Linked DNA regions of Homo sapiens. The protein of the gene in region 1 purifies or fractionates together with the protein of each later gene. This does not show direct contact. Each region holds a gene or a part of one and is shown in the gene's direction. Other genes may lie near its edges. The genes, in order: PHF11, SERPING1 and DNA2.

What was found.
Region 2: the proteins of PHF11 (region 1) and SERPING1 purify together in Homo sapiens (affinity purification with mass spectrometry; one large-scale study listed by BioGRID and IntAct). This does not show direct contact.
Region 3: the proteins of PHF11 (region 1) and DNA2 purify together in Homo sapiens (affinity purification with western blotting, with the first as the bait; one study listed by BioGRID). This does not show direct contact.

Annotation. Positions count from the first base shown.
Region 1 is NC_000013.11:49,502,338-49,506,067, forward strand, and holds part of PHF11 (PHD finger protein 11), read left to right. Parts: intron 1-3,730. UniProt on the Homo sapiens protein: Positive regulator of Th1-type cytokine gene expression.
Region 2 is NC_000011.10:57,607,675-57,611,404, forward strand, and holds part of SERPING1 (plasma protease C1 inhibitor precursor), read left to right. Parts: intron 1-3,730. UniProt on the Homo sapiens protein: Serine protease inhibitor, which acrs as a regulator of the classical complement pathway. Forms a proteolytically inactive stoichiometric complex with the C1r or C1s proteases. May also regulate blood coagulation, fibrinolysis and the generation of kinins.
Region 3 is NC_000010.11:68,426,974-68,430,473, reverse strand, and holds part of DNA2 (DNA replication ATP-dependent helicase/nuclease DNA2), read left to right. Parts: coding exon 1-38; intron 39-3,500. UniProt on the Homo sapiens protein: Key enzyme involved in DNA replication and DNA repair in nucleus and mitochondrion.

The DNA of each region.
Region 1 (3,730 bases):
TTCTAGAAGAAAACAGAGGTAAGTGTTTTCTATGTCCATCTCACCCAAGAGCAGAAATCATAAAATAAATGATTGTTGTAATTTCATCAAGTAAAACATTTAAATATTCTGTATATCAAAGAATATTATAAACAAAGTTAAAAGACCACATATATGACTAACAAAGGGTTAATACCCTGACTGTTATAAACCAATAAGAAAATAATAATTCAACAGAAAAATGGGCTAAGGACATGAGTGCCTTAGAGAAGAAATGGGATTGTGACCTTACTGCATGTTACATTCGTAAGTCCAGATTATGATCCACTTCTCTCTGCATTTCGTGTTCTTTCCTTTGACTTCATCATCTAACCTTCTGTCCTAACTGTACCTTGATAATACGTTTATTTGTTTGTTTGTTTTGAGACGGAGTTTCACTCTTGTTGCCCAGGCCACAGTGCAGTGGCACATTCTTGGCTCACTGCAACCTCTGCCTCCCAGGTCCAAGGGATTCTCCTGCCTCAGCCTCCCGAGTAGCTGGGATAACAGGCATGCACCACCACGCCTAGCTAATTTTTTTTTTTAATGTAGTAGAGATGGGGTTTCACCATGTTAGCCAGGATGGTCTCGATCTCCTGATCTTGTGATCCACCCACCTCGGCCTCCCAAAGTGCAGGGATTACAGGCGTGAGCACCGTGCCCGACCAAGATTGACCTTCTTAAACAACTTTGTCATCATGTGCTTCTCCTGCTCAGACATCCTCCTTGGCAGCCTTTCAACACGTTTCTCAAATCCTTTCCCAGCTTCCTGTGCAGCCTTTCCTCCTCAGCCTGGCTGCCTTACTGTCTCAGCTCCGATCTCTGGGCCTTTTCCCATATGGCTGCTTCCCTCTACAGTGTTCCTCCTAGCCCATACCCCAACCCACCCCACCTTTCCCTCCTCTCCAGGTTGTACCAGTTCCAGGCCCCTGCCCTTGACAATACTCCTTCCCACGAGGAGCACTTCCTCGGCTACCTCCTTAGCGTGTATTGGAATTCCCACTCACTTGGCAGTTGCACTTTGTGACACTTAATTCTGCCATTTTATTTTCCTAACTGCTATTTAGTCTCCCTGTTTATTTCGTAAGCTTCTTGCAGACACCAGTTCTATCTCACCACATTTCTTTACGTCCTCTGCTCTACTATTCACTAGAGGAGCCCCTCACCACAGATAGCTGTTGAGCACGTACAATGTGACTGGTCCTATTGAGACATGCTTTAAGCACAGAATACACACTGGACTTCAAAGACTCTGTACAAAAGAATGAATAACTTTTATATTGACTAAATGTTGAAAGGATGTAAGTTCTTTGACATATTTGGTTGCATAAAGCACATTATTAGCTTCACCTGTTTCTTTTTTGGGTTTTTTGTTTGTTTGTTTGTGTCGTTTTTGAGACAGAGCCTCATTCTGTTGCCCAGGCTGGAGTGCAGTGGCACAATTTCAGCTCACTGCAGCCTCTGCCTCCTGGGTGCAAGCAATTCTCGTGCCTCAGCCTCCCAAGTAGCTGGAATTACAGGTGTGTGCCACCATACTGGGCTAATTTTTTTGTATTTTTAGTAGTGACATGTTGGCCAAGCTGGTCTTGAACTCCTGACCTCAGGTGATCCACCCACCTCAGCCTCCCGAAGTTCTGGGATTATAGGCGTGAGCCACTAGGCCCAGCCTCCTTTTTGATTTTTTTAATGAGGCTCCTAGAAAGTTTTCAGTGATATCTGTGGCTCACATTTGTGTCTTGTTATATGTTTCTTGTTGGACAGCATCGGTCTAGAGTGCACAACATAGTGACTCAAACACAAGAAATGCTCTCAGGCTGGGTGCAGTGGCTCACACTTGTAATCTCAGCACTTTGGGAGGCCAAGCAGGCTGATCTTGAGCCTAGGAGTTTGAGACCAGCCTGGGCAACATAATGGGACCCCTGTCTCTAAAAAAAAAAATAACAAAAATTAGCCAGACATGGTGGCCTATATCTGTGGTCCCAGCTACTGAGGTGGGAGACTGAGGTGGGAGGATCACTTGAGCCCTGGAGGCAGAGGTTGCAGTGAGCCATCATTGCGCCACTGCACTCCAACCTGAGTGACAGAGCGAGACTCTGTCTAAAAAAAAAGATACTCCCCAGCCCCCCGCCCGGCCAGCCGCCCCGTCCGGGAGGTGAGGGGCGCCTCTGCCTGGCCGCCCCTACTGGGAAGTGAGGAGCCCCTCTGCCCGGCCAGCCGCCCCGTCCGGGAGGGAGGTGGGGGGTCAGCCCCCCGCCCGGCCAGCCGCCCCGTCCGGGAGGTGAGAGGCGCCTCTGCCCGGCCGCCCCTACTAGGAAGTGAGGAGCCCCTCTGCCCGGCCACCACCCCGTCTGGGAGGTGTACCCAACAGCTCATTGAGAACGGGCCAGGATGACAATCGCGGCTTTGTGGAATAGAAAGGGGGGAAAGGTGGGGAAAAGATTGAGAAATCGGATGGTTGCCGTGTCTGTGTAGAAAGAAGTAGACATGGGAGACTTTTCATTTTGTTCTGTACTAAGAAAAATTCTTCTGCCTTGGGATCCTGTTGATCTGTGACCTTACCCCCAACCCTGTGCTCTCTGAAACATGTGCTGTGTCCACTCAGGGTTAAATGGATTAAGGGCGGTGCAAGATGTGCTTTGTTAAACAGATGCTTGAAGGCAGCATGCTCGTTAAGAGTCATCACCACTCCCCAATCTCAAGTACCCAGGGACACAAACACTGTGAGAAACACCCAAGAATGATAAATAAAAAATAAATAAAAAAATAATAAAAAAATAAATAAATAAAAATGAAAAAAAAAAAAAAGATACTCCCAAATTTTTGGTTGTTAGACATGAATGAAAAAAACAGCTAGCTCATTCCGTCTGAGCAGTTTTCACTCTATCTTACCCTTTTTTCTTGCTTGGTGGGAAGCTGGGGACTGTTAATTTGTGTCCCCGGTAGGTGGGACCCAAATCCAAGAAACAGAAATTAAAGAAGAAACTGATCAGAATGTGAAATAAACGCTAGCTCCAAATGCAGCCTTCTGACTTGGTGAAATGAAAGACCTAACTTAAAGAGACAGAGAAGAGATCTGGATAACAGAAGAGACTTAGGGATCACTTAAGCAGTTAACCTCATCTAAATTGAAAACTTTTCCCATTAAATGGTAAAATAAATCTTTCTTTCAAAACTAAAATTTGAAAATTATAAATAAAAGCTGTTTTCTACTACAGAAAATCAAAGGAAGTAAGAGGATGAACATTGCAATGGGCAAAAAAATCTTAAACGAATTCTTGTGGCCAAATAGCAAATAACCAGTTCAAAAACTTTGCCTCTTACTGACACATGGGTGGAGATCTCAACAGCTGGCTTTCTTCTCCCTCTCTCTGCCTCTTGCCTTTTCTTCCTACCTCTTCTTCCCTTAGATTTCTTTCCTTTTTTCCATTCTTCGCCTTAAAAAAAAAATCTACTTCCTACCTTCATGTATCTTTCCTAATCATGATATTGAATTAAAGCACACTTAAAGTACATTGCTCATTTATGTCTTTAATTCTCATAGAATTTATTTTTGAATACAGTATGGCATTAGGATTCTAACTTTTTAAATAGATAATTAACCAGAGCACTATTTCTTAATATGCCATTGTTTTCTTCTTCATTTGTAGTGACAATAATGATTATTATTGAGAGCTTGCTATGGGCAAAGCAGTGTTTTGAGAGGTTTGCCTGT
Region 2 (3,730 bases), on another chromosome or scaffold:
TTCGAGACAGGGTCTCACTCTGTCACTCAAGCTGCAGTGCATTGACATGATCTCAGCTCACTGCAATCTCTGCCTCCCGAGTTCAAGCAGTTCTCCTGCCTCAGCCTCCCAAGTAGCTGGGACTACAGGAGCCCGCCACCACACCTGGCTAATTTTTGTATTTTTAGTAGAGACGGGGTTTCACCATGTTAGCCAAGCTGGTCTCGAACTCCTGACCTCAAGTGATCCACACCCTCAGCCTCCCAAAGGGCTGGGATTACAGGCATGAGCCACAGCGCCCAGCTGAGGAGGTTATTTTTGACCATTCTTTGCTCAGTTATTTATCCACTCATGGACTTATCCACCCATCTATCCATCCCTATCTAATGTATTTGACCATTCATGACTCATTTAGCAGAACCAGGACAGCCTGTATAAGGCACAGAAGAGTGAATATATGTGACAGGTCCAGAGCATTGTTCAAATTCAAGATACGTTGGGGGAGGTATAAATATGAGATTTTTTTCAAATCAATTGGAATGGCTATTTAATCAAAGCCATAGATGTTAGGTGGAAAGTAGGAATTAAGAACTTAACAAGTTAGGTTTAAATGTAACTATTCGAATTATAAGAACAAGTATTTCCTCTCTAAAAATGTTTTTAAAGTTTCACACAAAACTCTAAACCAAAAATCATTGTAAAAATCCCTTGGGAGTAGACTGTTGAAACCATTGAGGTGAGGTGATAGGTTAAGGTGAGCATTCTGGACATATAATATCAATAATAAATATTCAAATACAAAGCAGGTATAATATGAAGAGTAATTTCTATCTCCCCAAGCCAATATGAGTTTTGTTTGTTTGTTTGTTTTTCTTTTGAGATAAAGTCTCATTCTGTTGCCCAGGCCGGAGTGCAGTGGCACAATCCCAGCTCTCTGTAACCTCTGCCTCCCAGGTTCAAGCGATTCTCCTGCCTTAGCCTCCCTAGTAGCTGGGATTATAGGTGCCTGCCACCACTCCCAGCTAATTTTTGTATTTTTAGTAGAGATGGGGTTTCACCATGTTGGCCAGGCTGGTCATGAACTCCTGACCTCAAGTGCTCGTCCGTCTTCGGCCTCCTAAAGTGCTGGCATTACAGGCGTGAGCCACTGCACCCAGCCTGAGTTTTTTTTTTTTTTTTAAGCCAAAGGAGGAGGAGTAGTTTTGTGCACAAAAGCCACTATTTAGAGTTCCTTAGGTTTTAAACAGATAATTAATTTAATGTACTAACAAATGCAAAATTAAAATTTTACTTATGCCTTTTAATTTTAAGCTGAACTTGCTACATTAAGAGTAGGGTGATTTGGCTGGGCGCAGTGGCTCATGCCTATAATCCCAGCACTTTAGGAGGCTGAGGCAGGTGGATCACTTGAAGCTAAGAGTTTGAGACCAGCCTGGCCAACATGGTGGAATTCTGTCTCTACTAAAAATACAAAAATTAGCCAGGCATGGTGGCACATGTCTGTAATCCCAGCTACTCAGGATGCTAAGGCACAGAATCACTTGAACCTGGGAGGCAGAGGTTACAGTGAGCCAAAATCGCGCCACTGCACTCCAACCTGGGCAACACAGCAAGACTCTGTCTCAAAACACAAAAAAAGAATAGGCTGGGTACAGTGGCTCACGCCTGTAATCCCAGCACTTTGGGAGGCCGAGGCAGGTGAATCACCTGAGGTCAGGAGTTCGAGACCAGCTTGGCCAACATTGTGAAACCCCATCTCCATTAAAAATACAAAAAATAAGCCGGGTGTGATGGTGCACGCCTGTAATCCCAGATACTTGTGAGGCTGGGACAGAAGAATCGCTTGAACCCGGGAGGCGAAGGTTGCAGTGAGCCGAGATCATGCCACTGCATTCCAGCCTGAGCGACAGAGTGAGACCTTGTCTCAGAAAAAAAAAAATAGGGTGATTTTTATATAAAAACACTCTCATTTGTTCTTGAATTAATTGCCATATTGAACAGATTAAACTCCTTTAAACCATTTTTTCTATCTACAAACATAATTAGTATTCCCATAAGCATTTTAAGCTCCCTTTAAAAATTTAATATGCTCGATTTTCTTTTTTCTTTTATTTATTTATGTAGTTTTCCCAGACAGGGTCTTACTCTATCACCCAGTCTGGAGTACAGTGACACAATCCTCACTTACTGTAACCTCAAGCTCCTTGGGATGAAGCAGTCCTCCCACCCTAGCCTCTTAAGTAGCTGAGATTCCAGGCATGAGCCACCTCACCCAGCTGATTTTCTTTTTAAACACATCTAATACCTGACAGGTCGTAATTACGACTGTGCTTGGCCATATCATCCTAACACCTAAAGCTCACTTGTAAACTGAAAATTAAATTTGAAGGGTGAATTAACTTCTAGCCAACATTCCAATATCATTCTCACATTTAATGAAATTATCCTACAACTTTGCTTAAAAGCATAAAACTAGCATGTCAGAGTCTCTTAAAAATTACAATCACTATTTTAAATAACAAACATACAGGTTACCCTGAACTTAACACCTGGTTTTAACATGATGAAGTTGGTTTCTTTTGTCATTCTTATACTAAATTCTAAATCTTCCTGGCACTTAAGGATATTTACCCAAGGAAGGGGGTGAGATTTACCGGCTCAGGTACACCGAGGTTACTGGCTTGAAAATTCAAGACCACAGCATGGTAAATTTTTCTTCAGAGATTCAAGGTTCATACATAGGACTTGAAGGGCACATGCTACTCAAATGAGTATATCCAACTTGAGTGCTACATCAACAGGGACCCCATGTCCACTCTTTTCAGTCGAAATTGGCTTACTATCTACTTCTTCTGGGCTATTCAGGTTCCGACAATTGATTGCTTTCAGTTAATTTCTTTATTGCCCAGTTGAATTCTGCATTCTTCTAGATTCTTTTTGTTCCTTCAGCCTCAATCATAATACCATTTAATGACAGTCTCATATCCTATTAGACTAGGGTTTCTCAGCCTTGGCACTATTGACATATTGGGTCAGATAATTCTTTGTCCTGTGCATTGTAGAATTTAGCATCTTCCTTAGCTTCTACTCACTAGAAGCCAGTAGCACTGTGTGCACATCCTCCTTGCCCCCTGCCAGCTATGACAACCAAAATGTCTCCAGACATTACCAAATGTCCACTGAGAGGCAAATTCACTCCGAGTTGACAACCCCTGTATTAAACCCAGGGGCCCTGCACTTCTTACATACTTTTGTCTGGTCACCAGTTGAAAGTCCTTCTTCTTTTTTTTTTCTCTTTTTGAGATGGAGTCTCGCTCTGTCACCAGGCTGGAGTGCAGTGGCATGATCTCGGCTCACTGCAGCCTCCACCTCCCGGGTTCAAGCAATTCTCCTGCCTCAGCCTCCTGAGTAGCTGGGATTACAGGCACGTGCCACCACCCAGCTAATTTTTGTATTTTTAGTAGAGGTGGGGTTTCATCATGGTGGCCAGGATGGTCTCAATCTCTTGACCTCGTGATCCGCCCACCTCGGCCTCCCAAAGTGCTGGGATTACAGGTGTGAGCCACCGTGCATGACCAAAAGTCCTTCTAATAGCAAAGTGGAAAGGTAGGCTGTGAACAATCTTGAATGCCATACTAAGATTTGTACTTATTCTCATAGGCAGTGAAGAGCCATCAATAGTTTTTACAGAGGCTGACCTGATAACTCTGGCGGTTCAATGTGCATGCTATATACTATATGCACAACACAT
Region 3 (3,500 bases), on another chromosome or scaffold:
AATCCTTAGCTCTTCTAGAAGAACTCTACAATAGTCAAGTAAGCACAATTATTGTATAATAATACTAACAGTTAATGTCCACAGCCAGAATGAGGGGAGAAACTGTACTCTGGGAAATTTAGTCACATTGACTGGATTTGCACATGATTAATTTATATGTACTATACGACCAGTTTATTAACTTATAGTTTGCTATTTCCTTCTGATCTGAAATAAGGTTTTGGGTTTATTATTTAGGGCTCTCTTCTAGTTTCAAATATCCTAGGAAACTACTAATAATCAGGGTTTCAGCCAGGTGCGATGGCTTACGCTTGTAATCCCAGCACTTTGGGAGGCTGAGGTGGGTGGATCATGAGGTCAAGAGTTCAAGACCAGCCTGGCCAACATGGTGAAAACCTGTCTCTACTAAAAATACAAAAAAAATTAGCCGGGCGTGGTGGTGGGCGCCTGTAATTCCAGCTACTTGGGAGGCTGAGGCACGGAGAATCGTTTGAACCTGGGAGGCGGAGGTTGCAGTGAGCAGAGATCGCGCCACTGCACTCCAGCCTAGGTGACAATGCAAGACTCCAGCTCAAAAAAAAAAAAAAAAAATCCGGGTTTTTTAGTAAGTTTGAATTAGAAACAATGGTACTTAATAGTCTTGTGATAACTATCTCTAGGCTTTTATATAGAATCTAATTTTTATTTTATTTTGTTATTTAATGTTTATTTATACTGGGAGTTCTTAACAGATTTTTTTTTCTTTTTTTTTTTTTTTTTTTTGAGATGGAGTCTTGCTCTGTCACCCAGGCTGGAGTGCAGTGGCGCGATCCTGGCTCACTGCAAGCTTCGCCTCCTGGGTTCACACCATTTTCCTGCCTCAGCCTTCCGAGTAGCTGGGACTACAGGCACCCGCCACCACGCCTGACTAATTTTTTTTTTTTTTTTTTGAGACGGAGTTTTATTCTTGTTGCCCAGGCTGGAGTGCAATGGCGCCATCTCAGCTCACAGCAGCCTCTGCCTCCCGGATTCAAGCGATTCTCCTGCTTCAGCCTCCTAAGTAGCTGGGATTACAGGCATGCCTGACCACGTCCTGCTAATTTCGTATTTTTAGTAGAGACAGGGTTTCTCCGTGTTGGTCAGGCTGGTCTCGCACTCCCAACCTCAGGTTATCCTCCTGCCTCGGCCTCCCAAAGTGCCAGGATTATAGGCGTGAACTACTGCGCCCGGCTTTTTTTTTTTTTTTTTAATTGAACCTTCCACCAAGTAGCTGGGATTATGGGCGCGGCTATAGTGCCTGGCTTAACTGATATTTTTGTCTTTAAAAAATTTCCCAAAGATTAGATTTAATAGAGTGTTCCTTTACCTCCTTTGTCTAATGCTAGCATATTTTTGTCTAATATCTGTCCCTGTTATTGATAAATTTAGAACTGGCTAAGATGTATATCTGGTTAACATTTTTATTAAATTAAACATTTTACTTTGAGGTAATTGTAGAGTCACATGCAGTTGTAAGAAATACTAGAGAGAGCCTGTGTCCCCTTTATCCAGTGGTGACATCTTGCAAGTCTGTAGTACAATGTCACACCCAGGATGTTGACATTGATACAGTCCCTATTCTATTACCACAAGATTCCTCATGTTGCACTTTTATAGTTGTATCCACTCTCCTGCCTTACCCCTCCTTAACCTCTGACAGCCATGACTCTGAGACTCTGATCTCCATTTCGATAATTTGGTCGTTCGAGAATGTTAAGTAAATGCAATAGCCTTTTGGGATTGGTGTTTTTTACTTAGCCTGATTCTCCAGAGCTTCCCCCAGATAGTTGTACGTATTAATAGTTTGTTCCTTTTTGTTGCCAAGTATTTTTCCATAGCATGGATGTACTGCATTGTGTTTAACCATTCACCCTCTGAAAATCTGGATTGTTTCCAGTTTTTGGATATTGTGAATAAAGCTGCTGTAAACAATCATGTTACAGGTTTTTGCGTAACATAAGTCTTCATTTCCCTGGGATAAATTCCCAGTAGTACAATTTCTGGATTGATTGGTAGTTGCATGTTCATTTTTTTTTTTTAATCTGCCAAACTGTTTTTCTAAGCAGGAACATTTCACGTGTATGAGTGATCTCCTCAGCATTTGGTGGCGATACAATTTTTTTTTATTTTGAGACGGAGTCTCGCTTTGTCCCCCAGGCTGGAGTGCAGTGGTGCAATCTTGGCTCACTGCAAGCTCCGCCTTCCAGCTCATGCCATTCTCCTGCCTCAGCCTCCCGAGTAGCTGGGACTACAGGCGCCTGCCACCACGCCCAGCTAATTCTTTGTATTTTTACTAGAGATGGGGTTTCATCATGTTAGCCAGGATGGTCTCAATCTCCTGACCTTGTGATCTGCCTGTCTCGGCCTCCTAAAGTGTTGGGATTACAGGCGTGAGCCACTGTGCCGGGCTTTTTTTTTTTTCTGAGATGGAGTTTGGCTCTGGCGCCCAGGCTGGAGTGCAGTGGTGCGATCTGAGCTCACTGCAACCTTTGCCTCCCAGGTTCAAGCAATTCTCCTGCCTCAGCCTCCTGAGTAGCTAGGATTACAGGCATGCGCCACCACGCCTGGCTAATTTTTTATATTTTTAGTAGTGACGAGGTTTCACCATGTTGGCCAGGCTGGTCTTGAGCTCCCGACCTCGTGATCCACCCGCCTTGGCCTCCCAAAGTGCTGGGATTAGAGGCATGAGCCACCGTGCCCAGCTGATACTATTTTTAATTTTAGCCATTTTGGTAGGTGTTTGGAGATTTTAATTTGCATTTACCCAGTTAAAATGTGTGTGTGTGTGTGTGTGTGTGTGTGTGTTTGAGACAAGGTCTTGCTCTGTTGCCCAGGCTGGAGTGCACTGGTGAGACCACGCCTCACTGCAGCCCTGACCTTCTGGGCTCAAGTGATCTTTCTGCCTCAGCCTCCTGAGTAACTAGAACTATACAGGCATGTACCACCATGCCTGCCTAATATTTTCAATTTTTTTATGTTGTCCAGGCTGGTCTTGAACTCTTGGGTTCAAATGATCCTCCCACCTCTGTCTGCCTCCCAAAGTGTTGGGATTACAGATGTGAGCCACTGCATCCAGCCATAATGTGGTGGGGTTTTTTTTTTGTTTTTGACACGTTATTGCCCAGGCTGGAGTGCAGTGGTGTGAACTCGGCTTACTGCAACCTCTGCCTCCCAGGTTCAAGTGATTCTCCTGCCTCAGCCTCCCAAGTAGCTGGGATTACAGGCATGCGCCACATATTTTTTTTTTTTAGTAGAGACGGGGTTTCACCATGTTGTCCAGGCTAGTCTCGAACTCTTGACCTCAGGTGATCCACCTGCCTCAGCCTCCCAAAGTGCTGGGATTACAGGCTTGAGCCACCACACCTGGCCCATAATGAGTTTTTCATGTGCTTATTTGTCATCTGTATCTCTTCTTCATGTTTTTGCCCATTTTGGATTATATGCTTTGTAGTGTTGAGTTTTGAGAATTTTTAAAATGTATA